2 separate regions of the Homo sapiens genome follow, and region 1 is linked to region 2. The links come from fine-mapping of genetic effects on gene expression. A gene starts in region 2. The other region holds a variant in brackets. All regions are shown on one strand. Distances are between the middles of the regions.

Region 1 (4,000 bases), 28 kb after region 2:
GTGCCCTTCTCGGCTAACACCGCACCCCACCCCCATGCCCCGTCCCTGCTTTCTTCTTCGTAGCATTTGCCTTTTTCTATGACAATTATGTAACTCGTTTATCTTTATCTGTACTTCCCCTCCCCACCCCAACAAAAGTCCACTCCAAGAATCTTGCTATCTTGTTCACTGCTGTTTCCCAAGGCCCTAAAACACTGGGTCGTGCACAGTGGGCGTGCGACGTACAATTTTTGGACTAAATCAATCACTTTAAAAAGCTCAATATCCTTACTGCTGAGCACTTGGGTGGCTTTCAATATTTTTCAACAACCACTATTTAGCGCTCACCTCGCGCCGGGCGCATGGAGAGCGCTCAGGACACGGTCCCGAAGTCTCGCCCGGGCCTCTCGGCCACGTTCTGCGGCCGAGACCCTACGCGGCGCCGTACAGAGGCCCTCAGCGCCCGGGGTCGGAGAGGACAAGCTACCCAAGGCGCACCGCCCGCCCCGCGCATGCGCCCGGGTCGCGGCCAACTGAGACGGCTCCCAGACAACCGCCGCTCTTTGGAAGGCTTCCACCTACCCACTCTTCGTCGGACTAGCCTGACGCCTGACCAGACTCCTATTCGCCGCAAGGACCCGCCAAGGCTTGGGGCTCCCCGGCAGCAGCCACAGCTGGGCCCGAGAAACTCCTGGTGTCTTTACGTTTGGCTTCTCCTCGTCCCGCCCCACGAAGCGTGACGCCCAGGCGGATATGACGTCACCACGCGGCGTCGTCCTAAGGACCCAGGCGCGAATCCTGATCCGGAGCTGAGAGCGGCCGAGCTCAGCGCCCTCTGGTGTCCACTCCGGGAAAGCCGTGTGTGCAATTTGCTTGGGGTGCGGTTTAGGGCGGGTTTTTTCCGCCTTGGACGGTGCTTCATAGTTATCCATTTCTTCATGCATTCATTCATTCATTCAACAATTTTTTCGTTGTTTTTTTGAGACAGTTTCACTCTGTCGCCCAGGCTGGAGTGCACTGGCGCGATCTGGCTTACTGCTACCTCCGCCTCCAGGGCTCAAGCGATTCTCCCACCTCAGCCTCCTGAGTAGCTAGGACTACAGGTATGCTCCACCATGCCTGGCTAATTTTTGTATTTTTAGTAGAGACGGGGTTTCACCATGTTGGCCAGGCTGGTCTCGAACTCCTCGCCTCAAGTGATCTGCCCACCTTGGCCTCCCAAAGTGCTGGGATTACAGACGTGAGCAACTGCGCCCGAGTCATTCTACACATTTTTTTCATTATATTATAATTTATTTATTGAGATGGAGTCTCGCTCTGTCGCCCAGGCTGGAGTGCAGTGGCGCCATCTTGGCTCACTGCACCCTCCGCCTCCCTTCAAGTGATTCTTCTGCCTCAGCCTCCCAAGTAGCTGGGACTACAGGCATGCACCACCATGCCCAGCTAATTTTTGTATTTTTAGTCGAGACGAGGTTTCACCATGTTGGCCAGCATGGTCTCAATCTCTTGACCTCGTGATCTGTCCACCTCGGCCTCCCAAAGTGTTGGGATTACAGGCGTGAGCCACCGCGCCTGGCCTAATTTTTGTATTTTTAGTAGAGACAGGGTTTCACTATGTTAGCCAAGCAGGTCTCAAACTCCTGACTTCAGGCAATCCACCCACCTCGCCTCCCAAAGTGTTGGGATTACAGACGTGAGCCACCGCGCCCAGCCTACAAA[A/T]TTATATCTAGCATCTCCTCTCCTCAAGATCTCCTATGTCAAGCACTCCCCAAAGATAGGACCCACTCTCAGTGTCCCTTGTGACTCCCAGCACATAGTAGGTGTTCTATCTAGGCCGTCCTGGAAAGACCCACAAAGTAAAGACTTACTTTGTGCTAGGCACTATGCAAAATATTTTACATATGTCATCTCATGGAACCCTCACACAATCCTGAGATGGCTATTACTATGATCATCACCATTTTAGAGGTAGAAACTGAGGCACAGGCCAGGCGCAGTGGCTCATGCCTGTAATTCCAGCACTTTGGGAGGCTGAGGCGGGCAGATCACTTGAGGCCAGGAATTCGAGACCAGCCTGGCCAGCATGGTGAGACCCCCATCTCTACTGAAAATACAAAAATTAGCTGGGCACGGTGGTGCACACCTGTAATCCCAGTTACTCGGGAGGCTGAAGCAGGAGAATTGCTTGAACCTGGGAGGTAGAGGTTGCAGTAAGCCGAGATCACACCACTGCACTCTAGCCTGGCAACAGGAAAAGAAACTGAGGCACAGAGAGGCTAAGTTATTTGCTCAAGATCACAGTTATAAGCAGTGGCATGGGCTGTCTGATTCTAGCCAGTGCTCTCCATACTGCACTGTATTACCACCAATTGAGGGGCTGCAGTGGGAAGGGAAACTTTAGTGTAACCCCCATGAGGATGGGGCCTTGTCTGTGTTTCTCACCACTGCATCCCAGTTCCTGGTACCCAATGGTGACCCAACATCTATTTACTGAAGGCATTTGTTCATAAATGGATGTGCTGGTTTTGCTTGGGTTGGGGGGCAAAGGGTTGCCTTGCACAGGACAGTTGAGTCAGCGGGGATCTCCTTCCTCAATTATTTTCTCAAAATCCCACTGTGTTGTTTCCAGAAGCTTCAGTCCTCAACCTTGGCCATGCTCTCCAGTTCTGTGGTTCCTACTTTCTTCTTCCTTCAGAGGAGACAGGGCTTGTTCCAGATGTGGGAAGAGGTGGAGAAAGCAAACACAGACCCCACAGACCCAAGTATTATCTTTCTCAAAAAAGCTTGATTTCAGAAGCTGCCAGAACTTGCTTCAAATGCATCCTCTGCCACTTACCTACCTCCCTCATCTGTCACATGGAGAGATTATTAGCATCTACCTCACAGAGTTGAGGGAAAAAGAGTTGATGGTATAAAGTGTCTGGCACCCCAGGAAACCCTCAGTAATGGGAGAGGGTTCCTGTAAGCCAGCTGCCTGGCAAATGTATCCTGCCAGGTGGCCCAGGAAAACCAGAGCAATTCCTGTATTTTGAACTTCAAGGAACAATAGATAATTTTCACCCTGCTGCAACAAACCCTGAAAATGAAGTGTCTTCCCAGTTGCCTGAATTCTCTCATGCTGTCTTATTAATTCAGAGCGGAGGATAAAAGAGATGCCTTTGAATGATAAAGACAAAAAACTTGTTTTTTGGCTGGGTGTTGTGGCTCAGGCCTGTAATCCAGCACTTTAGGAGGCCGAGGTGGGCAGAACACCTGAGGTCAGGAGTTCAAGACCAGCCTGGCCAACATGGCGAAACCCTGTCTCTACTAAAAATACAAAAATTAGCTGGGTGTGATGGTGCGCACCTGTAATCCCAGCTACTCGGGAGGCTGAGGCAGGAGAATTGCTTGAACCCAGGAGGCAGAGGTTGCAGTAAGCTGAGATCACGCCACTGCACTCTAGCCGAGATGACAGAGCGAGACTCTGCCAACAAACAAAACAAAACAAAAAACAAAAAAAAACTTTTGTTTTTCAACTAAATTTTATATTAAAAAATCGTTTTTGGACAGTGTCTCACTGTCACCCAGACTGTAGTACAATAATGTGATCATGGGTCACTGTAGCCTCAACCTCCCAGGCTCAACCGATCCTCCCACCCCAGCCTCCCAAGTAGCTGGGACTACAGGTGCATGCCACCATGGCCAGCTAATTTTTAATTTTTTTGTAGAAACAGGGTCTCACCATGTTGCTCAGGCTGGTCTTGAACTCCTAGGCTCAAGCGATCCTTCTGCGTTGGCCTCCCAAAATGCTGGGATTACAGGTGTGAGGCACTGCACCATGCCTAAATTTTATCTTCTGAATAGGTACTGTAGGCTTACAGCATACATTTCAAATGACATAAAGGGATAGATATTAAAAAGTGAGTCTCCCTTCCACCTCTTCCCCTGTCAGCCTCTCCCCTCTCCAGGAGCAACAACTAGTATGAGTTTCTTAAGTGTCCCCTGAAAAATATGATATGGGGGCTTTTACCTCTTGACGATG
Region 2 (4,513 bases):
AAAGATCTGCAGGGCCAGGTGTGGTGGCTCACATCTGTATACCAGCACTTTGTGGGGCTGAGGCAGGAGAACGGCCTGAGCCCAGGCGTTCCAGACCAGCCTGGACAACATGGTGAGACGCTGTCTCCACACACACACACACACACACACACACACACACACACACACCAGCCTGGACAACATGGTGAGACGCTGTCTCTACACACACACACACACACACACACACAGACACACACACACACACACACACACACACACCCTTACAATAAAAACAGAATCCTATTACATCTTTCGCCACCTAGCTAAAGCACTGATCTCTAAGTTATTTTTTCAATGTTTACAATTACCATTTTACATAAACAGAAAAAGAGGCATAGTAAGGTTGAAGTTGGATTATTTAGTCATTTGATAAACACATTTGAAATCCTATCAAAAACCAGGGAATGAGACTCAAAAGTGAGGAAGAAGTGCCCCTCCTCTTGTAGCCTGGTGGAGACAAAAAGTAAAGAAGTAATTACAGGACAAACTAATCAAGATTAAGGTGTGGGTAGGCACATGGGCTGGGGCTGTAGAAATCATGAATGCTTCCTAGGGAAAGTAATTTGTGAGTATTTAGAAACATCTATCTCTTTATTTTCAATACAAAATAAACCTAAAGGACTCGACACTATTCCCTGAAAGGTTATAAGACTTACTTGCCAATAGTCAAGTCAAAAATCAAATTTAATAGCTGAATTACTCTTGACTCCCTATCCTAAATTTCAACCCTTATGCCATACTCCCTTTAGGCACAAATGATAGCAAGTTTAACAAATTCTGTCCTGTATGTGCCTTCTCACATGTCTACAGAATAGGATTAAAGACACACAGCGTGAAATAAATAGCCCTTTTTAAAAAGATAATAATTTTCTTAACTGGAAGTGAATGCTTTGAACAATTCAAGCCCTACAAAGCACGGCTGTCAGAAGAGGAAACTGAGGTTCAAAAAAGTCTCACTTTAATACAACAGAATAAAAGGTCTCTTTGAAGTCATCAGAAGAGCTTGAACGAAAAGAGAAACAGAAGGCTATTGTGAGCTTTAGCCTCCAGATGATGACCCCCCAAACACACTGCAATGGTAAACAAACAAGCCTCTGAGTCTGAATCTGATTCGGTGGACTGACAAAACATCACAATTGAAGGAATCTCTCTCCTCACTCATTACTTTTCCAAAAAAGTCCCACTAGCTGATAGCTCCAGGTTTCTTGCTGGTTCCTAGATTTATTGCTTGGAAATTATAATGCATAGTGGGCCTTTCAAAAAAAAAAAAAGGTACAAGCAAATGAAAACAACCACGGTTTTAAAGCCCCATAAAAGACCGTATATGTAGCAGAAATGAACCCTGCCAATGTTTACTATGAGGACCTATTACTCCTTTATGCTACTCGAGTGGATTTTAAACTCAAATGAATGCTACCACTGCCCACTAAAGAGCAAGTTAGAGAAGCACATTCATACACCTGCTTAACAGCGCCCCGACTGCCGCCCCCACCACTTCCCGGGACCAGGGCCAAGCGGCTGACCTGGAAACGGGGCTGCAGACCCCAGCCACTTACACTCTGCTGTCCCAACAAGTAGGCTCTGGAGTCACACTTCATTTGGCCCGGCACACCCTCATCCCCATCACCCAGACCCTCAGCTGCAAGGAGGAAATTACACGGCCTCAAAAAGGAAAAGGCTGGCGGCGGGCAGAAGTGGATGGTCCTGAGCGGTCTCGTTCCTGCTCCCCTAGTCCAAGGTGAGCCCGGGAATCCCGCAGCCCCCGCCCCCGCCCCCCAACTCGGAGTCGCTTTCCTGGTCGCCGCCGAGCTCCTTCCACCCCGCGGCGCCGGGAGCTGCGGTCCCCATCCTTGGCCCCTCCGGGCCTCAGCGTTCGCCTGGGCCCCAGGGGCCCTGACCCAGACCCAGCGGCGCGCCACAGCCTTCTCGGCCAGGGCCGCCCACCCTGTGGCCCGGTCTCCGTCCGACGACCCTGCCCGGCCCGCGCCAGGCAGCCCGCAGCCCCCTCGCGGCCCGGGGCCGCCCCACGCCGCCCGCCCGCCCGCTGGGCCGCGCACCGTGTGGGACTGCAGGCTCTGGCTCGCCTCGATGGCTGCTGTCAGCGGCACCGTGTCGTCCAGCAGCACCTTGCCGGCTGGCGGCTTCTCCATGAAGGCCATCCCGGGACGCCCGGCCGCCGCCGCCTAGGGACGCGAGGTAGGAACCCGAGGCGCCGACTCCCGCCGCCCGCCCGGTTCCACCGCCGCCGCTGTCAACACGCGCCGCCCCACGCGCCGCCGGGCCCGCGGGGTCCTAGCGCCGCCCTTCCCACGGCCGCCGCCCCGGAGTCCTAGCGCCGACCCAGCGCAGAACGTGTGGGGGCCGCCAGCACTGCCGCCCGCTGGCCCGCTCCTCCGCCTCGCGGCTGCCATGGGCCTGCGCTTCCCTGCTCCTCGCAGCCGCACCGCAGACCCGGTGCCCTTAGCTCCGGGCTTCGGACCAGGGAACACCACCCTAAGCCATCACTACCAGGATCCTCAGATCCAGAGACGCCTGGTCCTGAGCCCTGGGATCCAGGAATCTTCAGGGCGAGATTTCCAAACCAGGCCTCTCAGAACTGGGCTTTTCGGGGACCGTACCTCTTGAAACCCTCAGAACTGGATCTCTCTCATCCCCCAGGCCCAAGGACCCTAAAACTCAGAAAAAGGGCCTTTAGGATGGGACCCCCAGTCTGAGCCCTGCAAACCCAGAGACTTTCTGAAACAAGCCCTTCCTATTGAAACTTCACAGGGACTCTTGAACGTGGCTCCTCAGGCCTGAACACCTAAGAGCTGGACCCCATAATTGGAGGTCTTGGGCCCCAGAACCCTCAGACCCAAGCTCTAAGAACTGGAGACCCTATAAAATGGTCCAGAGACCCCTAGCCTCTACTCTTGGCCCCCACTGCGGGCTCAACCACATCCCTTAGACTTGGGAGTTTTTGATCCCACCATATGGACTAGAAGAACTTCAAACCAAGAGCCAAGCCAGAGAACCTTGGGATCAACTTCTCAGCCCTAAATCTGCCCACAGTCTGCCTGAACCCAAAGCCATAATCCTGGCACCACCTCATCCCCCCCATCTCCATATACACCTAGAAATTTCACCCACACTGCCCTCTCCTAGGGCAGCATTCCAGGATAGTGAAGAGTTAAATTTAGAATTGGAGGACCATCATCTCCATGGCTCTGGCATTTACCAGCTGTGTGATCTTCAATAAGTTACCCAACCTCTCTGAGTCCCAACTCCCCAATTTGCAAAGTGGAGATAATATTATTTGTATGAAAAGGTTAATACAAGGAATGCAGTAGACTGGGAAGGGGCTTGGCACATAGTAAAAACTCAAACGGTGGTCAGGCATGATCGCTCACGCTTGTAATCCCAGCACTTTGGGAAGCCAAGGTGGGTGGATCACCTGAGGTCAGGAATTTGAGACCAGCCTGGCCAACATGGCAAAACCCCCTCTACTAAAAATATAAAAATTAGCTGGGCATGGTGGCACGTGCCTGTAGACCCAGCTACTCTGGAGGCTGAGGCAGGAGAATTGCTTGAACCCGGGAGGGGGAGGTTGCAGTGAGCCAAGATCATACCACTACACTCCAGCCTGGGTGACAGAGTGAGACTCTGTCTCAAAAAACAAACAAAAAAACAGACAAACAAAAACACCTCAAACCGTGGTCAGGCATGATGGCTCACCTTTGTAATTCCAGCACTTTGGGAGGCTGAGGAGAGTGGATGGCTTGAGTCCAGGAGTTTAGCCTGGGCAATATGGTGAGACCCCGTCTCTACAAAAAAATTTTAAAAATACCTGGGCATGATGGCTCACACCTGTGGTCCCAACTACTCAGGAGGCTGAGGTGGGAGAGTTTTTTGAGCACAGGAGGTTGAAGCCGCAGTGAGCCATGATCATGCCACTTCACTCCAGCCTGGGTAACAGAGCAAGACCGTCTCCGGAAAAACAAAAAAAAAACAAAACAAAGTCAATATTAGTTTCCTCCTTCCCCTACAGTTGACAGAATGGAAGGTTCCTAACTCTTAAATTTGCCTCCACTAAATTTCTACACTTCAGATAAGGGAACAAAGTTCCTTGGTAATCCCACCACCACCACCAAAATTTGACATCACAGGAAAGGCCCACATCATACATAAAGGGTCCCTTCTCCAGATCTCAAGCTTATTGGGATTGGTGGGCAGCCCCGTTGAGTCAAGTAGCCATGAGATTGGTCCCAGGGGCCAAGATCTAATAGAGCGAGATGTGAAGAAGGAATCCTGGACCTTCATGATTCAGCCCTAAAATAATCAGAACTCTCCCTCCATTCCACTTTTGTGCCAGTGTGTTTAAAAGCAGCAGTCTATTAAAGCAAAACCATATGTCATTTAGGGAGGATTCAACTTTTTACTTTCATTTCTTTGTTTTAAGGCAAATAGATTATTTCTCTGCCAGAGTCACAGAAAC

What was found. PIP is the estimated chance that this variant, and not a neighbour inherited with it, causes the effect.
Region 1: its variant is the best candidate, but not a certain one, in a credible set for the expression of PXK in whole blood (INTERVAL, PIP 0.70).

What each region holds. Positions count from the first base shown.
Region 1 is chr3:58,302,979-58,306,978 of GRCh38, reverse strand. It overlaps RPP14 (ribonuclease P/MRP subunit p14), which reads right to left and starts at 734. Exons shown (of 6, transcript NM_007042.6): 1 at 562-734. It overlaps HTD2 (hydroxyacyl-thioester dehydratase type 2), which reads right to left and starts at 459. Exons shown (of 5, transcript NM_001348712.2): 1 at 328-459. RefSeq lists enhancers at 169-298, 419-678, 869-948. The variant A/T (reference allele first, on the strand shown) is at 1,699.
Region 2 is chr3:58,330,674-58,335,186 of GRCh38, reverse strand. It overlaps PXK (PX domain containing serine/threonine kinase like), which reads right to left and starts at 2,295. Exons shown (of 18, transcript NM_017771.5): 1 at 2,097-2,295. The coding sequence starts at 2,198. RefSeq lists silencers at 1,451-1,745, 1,992-2,521.